Homo sapiens: one gene and its partners. The protein of the gene in region 1 interacts with the protein of each later gene in a biochemical or structural test. Each region holds a gene or a part of one and is shown on either strand. Other genes may lie near its edges.

Region 1 (3,745 bases):
GGCAGAGGTTGCAGTGAGCCAAGATTGTGCCATCGCACTCCAGCCTGGGTGACAGGGTGAGACTCCGTCTCAAAAAAAGAAAAAAAAATACCCACAAAAAAACAAACAGAAAAACCCAAGATGAAGTCTTGGGTCACTCTGAGGGGACTTGGGATCAGGGATCCCTTAGTAGGTTTTCCTGGCTCAGGGCCTTCATATCTTGGCCTGTTTCAGGTCGGGAAGATGACCCAGAGCTGGTGGGTGCCTGGGGCCACAGAGTTCCCCCCACTCCATAACCAGTTATGCACAGGCCCTTCCCACTGCCCCTGCTGATTGAGGGGCTGCCGCCTCTGGCAGAGCAACGGGGAGCTGAGCATGGCCACCAGAGGGCAGCTGGGACCGCCACAGCAGGCAAGACCGGCTCCACCCAGCTTCCTGCGGCAGACCAGGACCCTTCCCCAGACACCTGGCTTGGATGACCGGAGCTCGGCCTCCAAGCCGCCTATTGAGGGCGTGGAGTTGGAAAGGAGCCAAGCAAGGCCCCTCGGTACCCCCAACATGCTTGGTGCAGGCAGAAGGAAGCCTGAAGGCCAGCTGGTGGGTGACCACACACAGGCTCAGCAGGGACAGTGAAGGACTAGCCCTGTGCCTGCGTAGCCCCAAAAGTGCAGTGTCCTTCAAGTGTGTGCCCAGGGGCCTCCCAAGCCTTCCCAGGTGTGGTCTGTGCCTCAATGTCCACAGCAGAAGTGGGCGTGTTCTCACTATGTGCCCAGGGTGGCAGCAGGCCTAGGAGAACACTCGGTTTTGCTGTAGTGGACAGCATTGTCATTGAGCAGCATGGACCTTCCCTGTCCACTGGCCACGGGGCACTCCATTCACCTGCCTGCATTGGCTGTTGCCAGGGCATGTTCTCAGCTACCTACAGTCAGTGTCACCTCGCGCTCATAGAGCAGGAAGCGAGGAGACTTGGGGAGGGGGTGGCCTGCTGAGGCCACACTGCAGGGAGTGCAGAGCGAGCTCACCTGGGCCCCTCATTGCCTACCCAGCCCAGGCTGCATCCTCCATCCCAGTTCTGGGCCCAGTGTGTACCCATGGGAGCTGCCCTGTGCCGTCAGCTATCCAAAGGACTGTAGCTTGCCAATCTGGCTGTGTGGCCTGGGCCAGGCTTATGCCCCAGTGTGAGACCTCTCAGCCCTCTGGTTGGACCATGGATACCGTGCCAGAACCACAGGGCTTACTAGGGCATCAGTGGGGTGTAGCCAGGGGCTGACAGAGCCCCATGGCCAGCCATCGGGTCTGGACAGTTTGGTGGGGAGACCCAGTGTGGGGGTCCCATGGCATGGGTAGGCCCAGGCCATCCTCACTGGGAAAAGGGCCCAATAAAGGGCGTGGTCATTCCCCCGCTTTGAGGCGGCTGGTACTGGGTCCTTGGCCAGGCAGGTGACCCCAGAGCTTGCAGAGCACTCAGGGGGGCTCCCCAAGGTGAGCACCTCCCCACCTTCCCATATGATCCTATCACTAGTTCTGCCTTCACATCACTGTCCTGTCTGTCGTCCCTCTGTCCGTCCACTGCCCAGAGCTCCCTTAGGTTGTCCACAGATGCTCTGCTCTGCCCCTGCCTGTACGATGCTGATGTGCCTAGTGCACCCTTAGGAAGGATACCCACAGCTCTGGCTGCTCCTACCACTCAGCCTCCTGTGGTGCTGCTATCCTCTGCTCCCACCCATCTCCTGGGGGAAGCCCTCTCCAATGCCTCACTTGGACCCCTTCCCAGGGTCTGCTATTGGCTCTACCATATGGTTGCAGGTTCTTGGCCTGGCTGGACCCCATGAGGTAGGAGGCCCATGAGGAAGGACCCATGTTCTCCTTTGGTCACACTTCCCCAACTGGGTGGGGGGGGGGGACTTTGGGAGGCCTGGAGGCAGGAAGACCTGAGTTAAATCCTGGCCCAGCCCTTGTCTGGCTGGGACCCAGTTTCTCCATGTGTAAAATGGGGTATATAGCCAACCTGAGACACCTGGTAGAGTCAGTGAGATGACGGCTCACAGCCAGTGTGTCTCGGTTCTGTGGCACATGGTGACTCCGGGGGAGAGGCTGGTGCTTATCAGGGATAAAAAAAAAAAGTCACATGGTTCTCTGTGGTACAAAACCTATGTGAACACTTAAGCTAAAACCAGAGGTTTCCTAGAAATGTCACACTCAGAGCAAAAGCTGGTTCCTAAGCCTCAGACCTTGGAGTAGGAGCAGCATCTCCTCTTCCTCGGGGCGCAGTGCTGGTGGATGGGCTCCCAACCGGGCCTGCCCATCTCAGGTGCACACACACACTCATATTCACATGCACGCACATGCATATGCACATGTGCCTGGCTTGGTCCCCAGTTCTTCCCTGCCTCAGGCCCTGCATCCCACCCCCCATGATCCCACCCTGAGGCGTAGCCAGTCGCCCACCCTCACTTGGACCCCTTCCCATGATGAAGAGGCTGTCGTGAGACGGGGAAACACACCGTTGGGGCACCAGAATGGACCATGACCACAAAGGACTATTGGGCGGGGCCTCAGAACAATCTAGAAAACACCGTAGAGGCGGGGGAGAGAGCTCTCATTACCGATGTCCCCCAGAGACAGCCTCCCATCCGAGGCCCAGCCCTTCCCTGTCTGTCTGCAGTGTCCTGTTTTTCATTTTTATGACATGAACACTCTGGCAATATCCCCGGGCCTAGATATAAGGAGAGGGAATGTGTCCCCGGGGCCATTAGCTGAGACAGGAAGCCGCAGGGTCCTCCCCTGAGGAAGGCTGAAAGCTGTGTGAGTACAGGCACCCCCTTGTCTCCTGCTCCAGCCCATAAGCCTCAGCTCCCCAGGCTTGAGTGCCAGGTCCCCCATCCCAGACAAATGGTTATTCACACCTGGCCACAGCTCCAGGGCCAGGAACCTGCCTGCTTCCCCGCCCTCCCTGTACTGGAGACTGTTGGGGGCAGCTGCCTGCCTGGGAGGGCCCAGGATCTATGTTGGCCTCAGGGAACCTCAGGAGAGGCACGTGGCCTCGCCCACAAGGCGGGAGCGGACTCTAGGGAGGTGGAGCAGATGTCTTATGGGGCTGTGAGCACCTGCGTGGGGCAACAGGACCCTGAGCCTGGCTACCCTGGGGTGGGAATACTGCTGTGCTGTGTGTGATGGGGAAGACGTCATTATCAGTCCACATCTCTGAAGGATCACGTTTCTGAAGGATGGTCAACAGCATTAGACATGCTGACAAGGAACCGTGGCAGCCCAGTGTCACCTACAGTCCTGGACATGTGGGGGCAAGAAGGTACACATGAGTGTGTGGTTATGAGTCAGGAGCACCACGGGATGACCTTCAGATCAGGCATGACAAGGTCCTGCTTAGAGGACGGTCTGGGCTTGTGTACCTTTATCCGGCAGGGACCTACCCAGCTGGATTGACCTCACTCATGCCCTCTGGTTTCCCTGCAGGAGCCAGAGCCTGCAGGGTGGGTGTCGGGACATGCTGATCTTCCCTCAAGACAGGTGAGTGGCCTGGGTTTAGCTTGGGGACATCCTCTCCCACATAGGACAGCAGAGTGTTCTGGTGGGCCTGGCGGGTGGGGGTGACAGGGATGGACTGGCCCTGGACACTGTGTGCTCCTGGTCCTTCTCACCCTGGGTAGGCACAGCCCCTGGGCTGGACAGGGTGGATGTGAGGGCCTCCTGCCACCAGCTTGGGTTTGTTACTGGCCTGAATATGGGCAGCAGCCACTGGTTTGAT
Region 2 (3,745 bases), on another chromosome or scaffold:
ATCTTCATAAAGCGATAATTCTCTGTAAGGGACTTGCTCTATTAAGGTTTTGTTGCTTTTGAAGCCAAGTATAAGCCATATAAGGAAACTGAAGTTCAATGCCATTTATTTTGTTCACCTCTTTCAGATGCCCAAGAATAACCTCTTTTGCAGCCTAATGATACGTTCCAAAATCATAAAGTAGATGAGTTATGCACTTTAAATTCTTTGATAAAGCTAGTTTGACTTAACAAGAATTATTCCATGGTTCACAAATCTTACCAACAATGAAAAAAAAAAAGAATCTCCTGAGACCATGCCCCGGGGAGGAAAAAAAAAATCAAAACTACAGTAATAAATAAAGGACTGCCTTTGGAGATGTACTTAATGAAGCTGAAGTAGCAAAGAACAAATTGTGAAATAATTTGATCCTGATCTTTAAAACTTATTTTTTCTCTTTGAACTAAAGAAAATCAACTCTCTCCTCGGGTTTCCGGTCATTACGTGAGACAGCATAGGCAATCTAAACATCAATATATATTTAGGATATACCTACCAACAGGATTACCAAATTTATTCAATATATATTCAAAAGTACAGTATTGTATTTCACCTCCCTGTACCGCAAAAATACCGGGAAAAAAAGTAAACAGAAAAAGACTAAAACACCACTGAAAAAAACTTTGGGTTTACTGCTATCAAAACTAGTCCCCATTGGTTCAGAAGTGTTCATAGCTCTGACTGGTGGAATGTCTGCCATGCTTCATGAATCCTGCCCCCACAGATGTAGGCAGAACCTATCACTATTTATGCAGAACCGACCAAAAACATTTGGGACAACACAAAAATGTAAAGACCATACTACTCGAAAAGCACAGCTTTTTATCACAATCACTGTGATTCCCTTGAAAATCGTTTTAAGCGTTTTACTTCCCCTCCCATCGTCTGTTCTGAACTGTACAGAAGTCCTATTAAACGTCTTACAGGTTGTTAATGTTGTTTAATTATCTCTCCCTATTCTTAGTCCTTACTCCTTTTTTCTTCGTAATGGATCAGTTACAAGAAAAGCCTAGTCGATCCTTGCTTTCAATTAATTAAACAAGTTATACGGCGCTAAACGTCTGAAAAACACACACTACACACAACTAAAGAAATATATTACTCACCCTGAAAAACAACTAAGAATGGCAAGATTTTTTGGTTTCTAAAATCTAACTAAATATACTGATCAGGGTTGGAAATAAAAAAATAAAAATAAATACCTCTATATACAATTAACGCAAGCGCCAATATAATCGGTATGAGTATAAACAAACGCGGCAGCCATCTCAATAACAGCAAATCACTCACTGCAGCGACCAAACTTTCTTCCCAAACAGAAGGTGCCTGGCTGAGCAACTTAATATACACTCTATACGTTCCAGAAAGCCAAAACTTCTGGCCCCTGTGCTGAACAAAGGCAATCGTTCTTCGGATTACTAAAAACTTTTCGTCCCACCGCATTCTTACAACCTCTTCCAAAAAATTCAAAGTCCAGATGGTGGGGGGGGCAGGGGGGAGAAGGGACGCGGTGGGGTGCAGTTCGATTATTTAGCCCCTCAATTATTAACCGCTTCGATATGAGAAAAGGAGGGTTTAGGGCAACTTGGAGAAGAGTGAAAAACACTAAAGAATCATCTCTTTTCCGAGTCACAAAGTCCCATGAACTTTGTGACTCAGAGACACTTTTCGTGAAAATTACCTTTCGGCGGGACACCGTCTCAGGGCAGCTTTTTCAAGGCTTCGCTTGACATGATTTCCTTCCCTTCATCAGTCACTTTGGATCCAGCTGAATATCTCTCTCGGGTGAGAGCGGATGTGGACTGGCCTCCCACAGAAGAAGAGTAGGTGGCTTTGGTGGGGGTTGGGGTGCGGGCTGGCTTCCTGGTCTCGAGTTTTGCAGGAGTTTCCCAGCCCCAACGAGGATCTCCGCCGAAAAAAAAAAAAACAAAACTTTTCACTCGTGACACCGCCCGGAATTGCAGTGCGAAACTCACTTCCTGCCTTGGCGAGAAGCAGGATCCAGCTCCGTCCAGGGGAACCCGGAAAACCAGCTCCGCGCGCACCGGAGAGGGGGAGGGGAGGGGACGGCCGCCGGGAGCCTCGGGTTCCGGGCAACCGGCGCGCCCGGCACACCGGACGGCAGCAGCACCCGGCCGGCGGGGGCGAGGACGCTGCCCGGGCGCTCGGCGAGCCTCGGCCGCGCTAGGCCGCCACCGCTTCCTCTCCGTTGCCCCCAGAGCCGGGCGGCAGGGTTATTGTCTCGATAGCGCTTGCCGCGCCCTTCGTCCGCGACGCCGCTGCCGCCGCCACCCGGAGCCGGAGCCGAGGAGTCGGGCAGGCTCAATAGCGGCCCCCTCCCCGGGCCGTCCGTCGGGCCGTCCGTCCTTCCGTCCGTCCCTCCCCGCTTTCCCTACTCGCCCTCGAACCCTCTTCTCCTCCCTCTCCCGTTTTCCCGCCACCGTCCCTCCGCTGCCCTGCTTGTTCTCCTTCGCCAGCGGCGGTGGCTCCCCGAGACGCGCAGGGGGCGGGAGCAGGAGGCAGCTCCGTCTCCTCACGAGCTTGCGGGGCCGCGGCAGGGGCCGAGACTGCGTCCCGCGCCGCCGCGCCACATTCACTCGAGCGAGAGACGGCGAGGGGAGGGAGGACGGAGGGAGCGGAGAGAAAGGAGGAGGAATGGGGCAGGGGCGGAGGGGAGTTACTGCCTCACAGGCCGCGGCGGCAACAGCGCCACCGCCCCGGCCGCGACGGGTGAAGAGGCTGCGCGCCGCGACTCTGCGGCGGGGGCGGGGGCGGGGCGGCCTCCCGCCGGCTTCGCCCCAACCGCCAACAGCCGGGCAGGAGGCCTGCGCGGGCCAGTCAGCGCGCGGGGGCGGTGCGGGCCGACGTCGGCGGCTGGGGGCAGCGGGCCGGGGGCCGGGGGAGGGGCAGCCGGCGGCCGTGGGTTCGCGTGCAAGGCGCGCCGTGAGGCCCACTCTGGCCCAGGCCCCTCGAGGCCTGCCCGCTGCTCCCTGCCCGCTCCCCGACCCCGCACTCCCGGACTCCCGAGCCCCCCAGGGTGGGGAACGCTGGCAACGCCGACCCTGCTGTCTGCTCGCGGCCCAGCGCCCAGCCAGAGAGATAGAGAGCCCACAGGCCTCCGCCGCGCCGGCCGATGGAGTTTCTTTGTACGACAGTAATCGGTGCACAGGGGTTGTTGGAGTCCAGCCCTGATTTGAAGGCAGCAGGTATCTCTTGCAGCTGCAGCACTCCAACTTCCTCTAATGGCACGGTCAGGTCGCAGGAAACCACAGCGGCAGCGCGGTGCAGCTTCCCACGCCCGCCCTTCGAGCTTGTTCCCCAGCGGCGCAGCTCAGCCTCCTCCAAGTCTCAGCCTCATACCGGCGGGGAGACAAAGCTGGCGCTGGGAGTGGGAAAAGGGCCCGCGAAATGGCCTCAAGATCGTGCCTTTGTTAGAAGAAACATGGGTACGCTCCGATGCGACGCAGGCTTCCAACCCCAGCGGTTCGGTGGTGGTGCAGTCGTTGAATTGCGCTGGCCCTAATAATTCAGCCTGGCAGGGTTCGCGTTTATTGCGGAGAGAGACTCTTAAGCATTCTGTCAACACATATGGCAAATAGAAAGCCTCAACCATAACATTGCACAGTTTTTGCAGTTCTTGCTTTAAATATGTTCACAGAAAAGACGGCCTTGTTTTACCCAGAGAAGGAGCGTAATGCGGAGCGAA
Region 3 (3,745 bases), on another chromosome or scaffold:
AGGTCAAGAGATCGAGACCATCCTGGCTAACATGGTGAAACCCCGTCTCTACTAAAAAATACAAAAGTTAGCTGGGCATTCTAGCGTGCGCCTGTAGTCCCAGCTACTCAGGAGGCTGAGGCAGGAGAATCGCTGGAACCCGGGAGGCGAAGGTTGAAGTGAGCTGAGTCCTCGCCACTGCACTCCAGCCTGGTGACAGAGTGAGACTCTGTCTCAAAAAAAAAAACAGAAGAAGAAAGAAGAAGAGGAGGAGGAAGAGGAGGAGAAGAAGAAAGAAGAAGAAGAAAAAAAAGGGCAGTGGGAGCAAGCCCTAGAGCCCAGAAAACCAGAACCCCGTCTGCACTCCCTTCAGGCGCCTGCCCTCCCCCAGCCTCCCCTCCCCCAGCCTGCCCTCCCCCAGCCTGCCCTCCCCCAGCCTCCCCTCCCCCAGCCTGCCCTCCCCCAGCCTCCCCTCCCCCAGCCTGCCCTCCCCCAGCCTGCCCTCCCCCAGCCTCCCCTCCCCCAGCCTGCCCTCCCCCAGCCTGCCCTCCCCCAGCCTGCCCTCCCCAAGCCTCCCCTCCCCCAGCCTGCCCTCTCCCAGCCTGCCCTCTCCCAGCCTGTCCTCCCCCAGCCTGCCCTCTCCAAAATGTCATTTTGGGCTGGGCACAACGGCTCATGCTTGTAATCCGAGCACTTTGGGAGGCCGAGGCGAGTGGATCACCTGAGGTCAGGAGTTTGAGAACAGTCTGGCCAACATGGCAAAACCCCATCTCTACTAAAAATACAAAAAATTAGCCGGGTGTGGTGGCACGCGCCTGTAATCCCAGCTAGTTGGGAGGCTGAGGCAGGAGAATCACTTGAACCCAGGAAGTGGAGGTTGCAGTGAGCCAAGATCACACCACTGCACTCCAGCCTGGGCAACAGAGCGAGATGCCATCTCAAAAGGTAAAAAAAAAGAAAAGTAACTTTGTACTTGATGTGGGGAAAGGACGCTTCCTGCCTTTGCCTCTGCAGGAAGCAAAATTTCCTTTTATTTGCCCCAAATCCTCCTTTAGACTTTGAGAACCAGTCCTTGTATCCCTTACATCAAAAGTTATTAGAGAGTATTTCTCACTTGGAAACTGTAATTGTGCCCATTCTCCGAAAGGATGGGAGGCAGTTTAAAATGTCATGTGCACAGGGGAATTAAACTTCAGGAGGAGGCCAGGCGCAGTGGCTCACCCCTGTAATCCCAGCACTTTGGGAGGCCGAGGCGTATCACCTGAGGTCAGGAGTTTGAGACCAGCCTGGCTAACATGATGAAACCTCATTTCTACTAAAAATACAAAAAATTCGCTGGGCGTGGTGACGTGCACCTGTAATCCCAGCTACTTGGGAGGCTGAGGCAGGAGAATCGCTTGAACCCAGGAGGCAGAGGTTGCAGTGAGCTGAGATGTCGCCATTGGACTCCAGCCTGGGCAACAAGAGTGAAACTCTATCTCAAAAAAAAAAACAAAAAACAAAAACATAACTTCAGGAGGAACAAAGACCACAGAGAGACAGGGAGAGAGATTAGGAACCCTCTGAGAGCCTTACTTTAGTCACACGTGAAGCTGTGAGCTTCCTGGCTGCCAAGGCAAGCAGGGAAAGTGGCACCTGCCCTGTCTGCTAAGGGAAGGTGGCTCCCGTTCAGGGACGTCCTCAGTCACTGTGACAGATGCCCCACCCTGTGCTGTTTCTCGCCTGTTTAAGCTGGTGTTTCCAGCTGGAGACAAAGTCTGAACGTGCTGTCTCTTTCGCATGGCCCTAACGGGAGCCACAGAAATTTGGGGGCCACAGAGCCAGCCCTTGCTCTATGTTTGAACAGCTAAGAGCGTTTGCCCTGGACCTGGGAGGATCCACCCTGGAGGACCCCACGGACCTGGAGATTGTAGTTGTGGATCAGAATGACAACCGGCCAGCCTTCCTGCAGGAGGCGTTCACTGGCCGCGTGCTGGAGGGTGCAGTCCCAGGTGAGACAGGACCACAGCCCCGGGCCGGGAGGGGCTGCAAGGAAGGGCTCTGTGAAGTCCAGGACTTCCCTTAAGCAAGAATTCCAGAGGCCCCTCAGAGTCTAAAAATAAGTAAACAAGTCTCCGAGGCAGGTCCGTTTCCACAGGTCAACTCCTGCCACTTCCCATTCCAACATAAATTTCAAACCCAAAAATCTGAGCCTGGGAGTGGAGGTTTTTCAGGGGTCTTGTTCTCCCCCAAAAGCAAATGACTTCTCCCTCCTGCTGAGGGGGCCATCTGGAGCCAGGCACACTCCATCCTCACCCTGTACTCACATGGGGTCCAGAGCACCCACAGGCATCTCTAGGTTGTGATTCACCCTAAACCCAGGCTGACCTGTAAGCTCCAGCCACGGGGACTCGCTCCCACCTCCCTGGGGGCCGGTGGTAAAGACCTGGTGGAAAGGCACAGGCCCCCTCGTGTCTGAGGCTACCAAGGACTGTGGCCAGGCCTGGCCCAGGCTCAGGCTTGGAGGCTCATATCCCGCCTCAGTTTCCTTCCCGTGTCTGTGGCAGTGGCCTCCGCGCCTCGTTCTGCCCCAGGTGACAGACAGCACGTCCTAGCTCCAGCTGTCCCGGGGGGAAGTCACAGCCAGCCAGGAGCTGCTCCCCAGGGTGGCCCAAAGCCCGTCCTTCCCACCCCACCTCGGTGGCTAAGTCCACCTGAGCTGCCAGAGGGGTCAGGCCTAAATCTCAGGAGAGGGAAATGGGGGGAGGTGAAACCTGGTCCTGCCATATGTGGTCCCTCTAGCGGCACCTTCGTGAGTACCGCTTCCCACAGCAGGTGGGGCGGGGGCTCTGGCCTACACAGTCACAGTGCGCGTCCTCTGCTCGGCTGTCGTGTGTCCTGCACCCAGCCTGCCCGCGCATCCTCTGTTTTATCCTGCCCTTGCATCCTCTGTCTTATCCTGTCCGTGCGTCCTCTGTTTTATCCTTCCCCTGCGTCCTCTGCCCAGCCTGCCCGTGCGTCCTCTGTCTTATCCTGCCCGTGTGTCCTCTGTTCAGCCTGCCCATGCATCCTCTGTCACCCTGGATGCCAGCAGCTCCTGGAGGCCCCCGCTAGCTAGCCCAATCTGACCCAGCGCCCTTAGCCCCTGCACTGGGCAGGCCCAGGAGCCAGCACCTGACCCAGGTCGCATCCAATGCTCCTGTGCTCCGACCCCATAAACAGCACAAGCCGGGCAAAAGGCTTCGACCACATAGGTGGCCTGGACACAGCACGGTGGGCTTCAGGGGCAGCGGGAAGCATCTCGACCTGGGGGTTGCCGCATGCTGGCCGCCTCGGTGACGCAAACAGCAGCATGGACTGACTGCCCCATCTGGGGTCAGCCGTGCTGGAACCGGGGAGCCTGTGCACACGAGGTGCCCCCACGCCCCTCACAATGCCCCCAGCCCATCGGCCCTGTGGACGTTGGCCCTCACGCCTCCCTGTGCTTCCCAGGCACCTATGTGACCAGGGCAGAGGCCACAGATGCCGACGACCCCGAGACGGACAACGCAGCGCTGCGGTTCTCCATCCTGCAGCAGGGCAGCCCCGAGCTCTTCAGCATCGACGAGCTCACAGGAGAGATCCGCACAGTGCAAGTGGGGCTGGACCGCGAGGTGAGGTGGCGCCCCGGCAGCTCCACACCCGCACGGCCAGGGCAGCCCATCTCCTGCGGGTCCCTCTGCCCCCAGCCTGCCCACCCCAGACGCTCCTGTCCCTGCCGTCACTGCAGAGCTTGCAGTGGCCCTGG

Evidence for each region.
Region 2: the proteins of ARVCF (region 1) and ERBIN interact in a test that uses a peptide from one of them, tested with the Homo sapiens proteins (3 studies listed by BioGRID and IntAct, with this or other methods).
Region 3: the proteins of ARVCF (region 1) and CDH15 form a complex in vitro, tested with the Homo sapiens proteins (one study listed by BioGRID).

Annotation. Positions count from the first base shown.
Region 1 is NC_000022.11:20,010,217-20,013,961, reverse strand, and holds part of ARVCF (splicing regulator ARVCF), read left to right. Parts: intron 1-3,453; 5' UTR 3,454-3,507; intron 3,508-3,745. UniProt on the Homo sapiens protein: Contributes to the regulation of alternative splicing of pre-mRNAs.
Region 2 is NC_000005.10:65,924,782-65,928,526, reverse strand, and holds the start of ERBIN (erbin), read right to left. Parts: upstream 1,953-3,745; 5' UTR 1,721-1,952; intron 1-1,720. UniProt on the Homo sapiens protein: Acts as an adapter for the receptor ERBB2, in epithelia. By binding the unphosphorylated 'Tyr-1248' of receptor ERBB2, it may contribute to stabilize this unphosphorylated state.
Region 3 is NC_000016.10:89,181,723-89,185,467, forward strand, and holds part of CDH15 (cadherin-15 preproprotein), read left to right. Parts: intron 1-1,825; coding exon 1,826-1,970; intron 1,971-3,450; coding exon 3,451-3,611; intron 3,612-3,745. UniProt on the Homo sapiens protein: Cadherins are calcium-dependent cell adhesion proteins. They preferentially interact with themselves in a homophilic manner in connecting cells; cadherins may thus contribute to the sorting of heterogeneous cell types.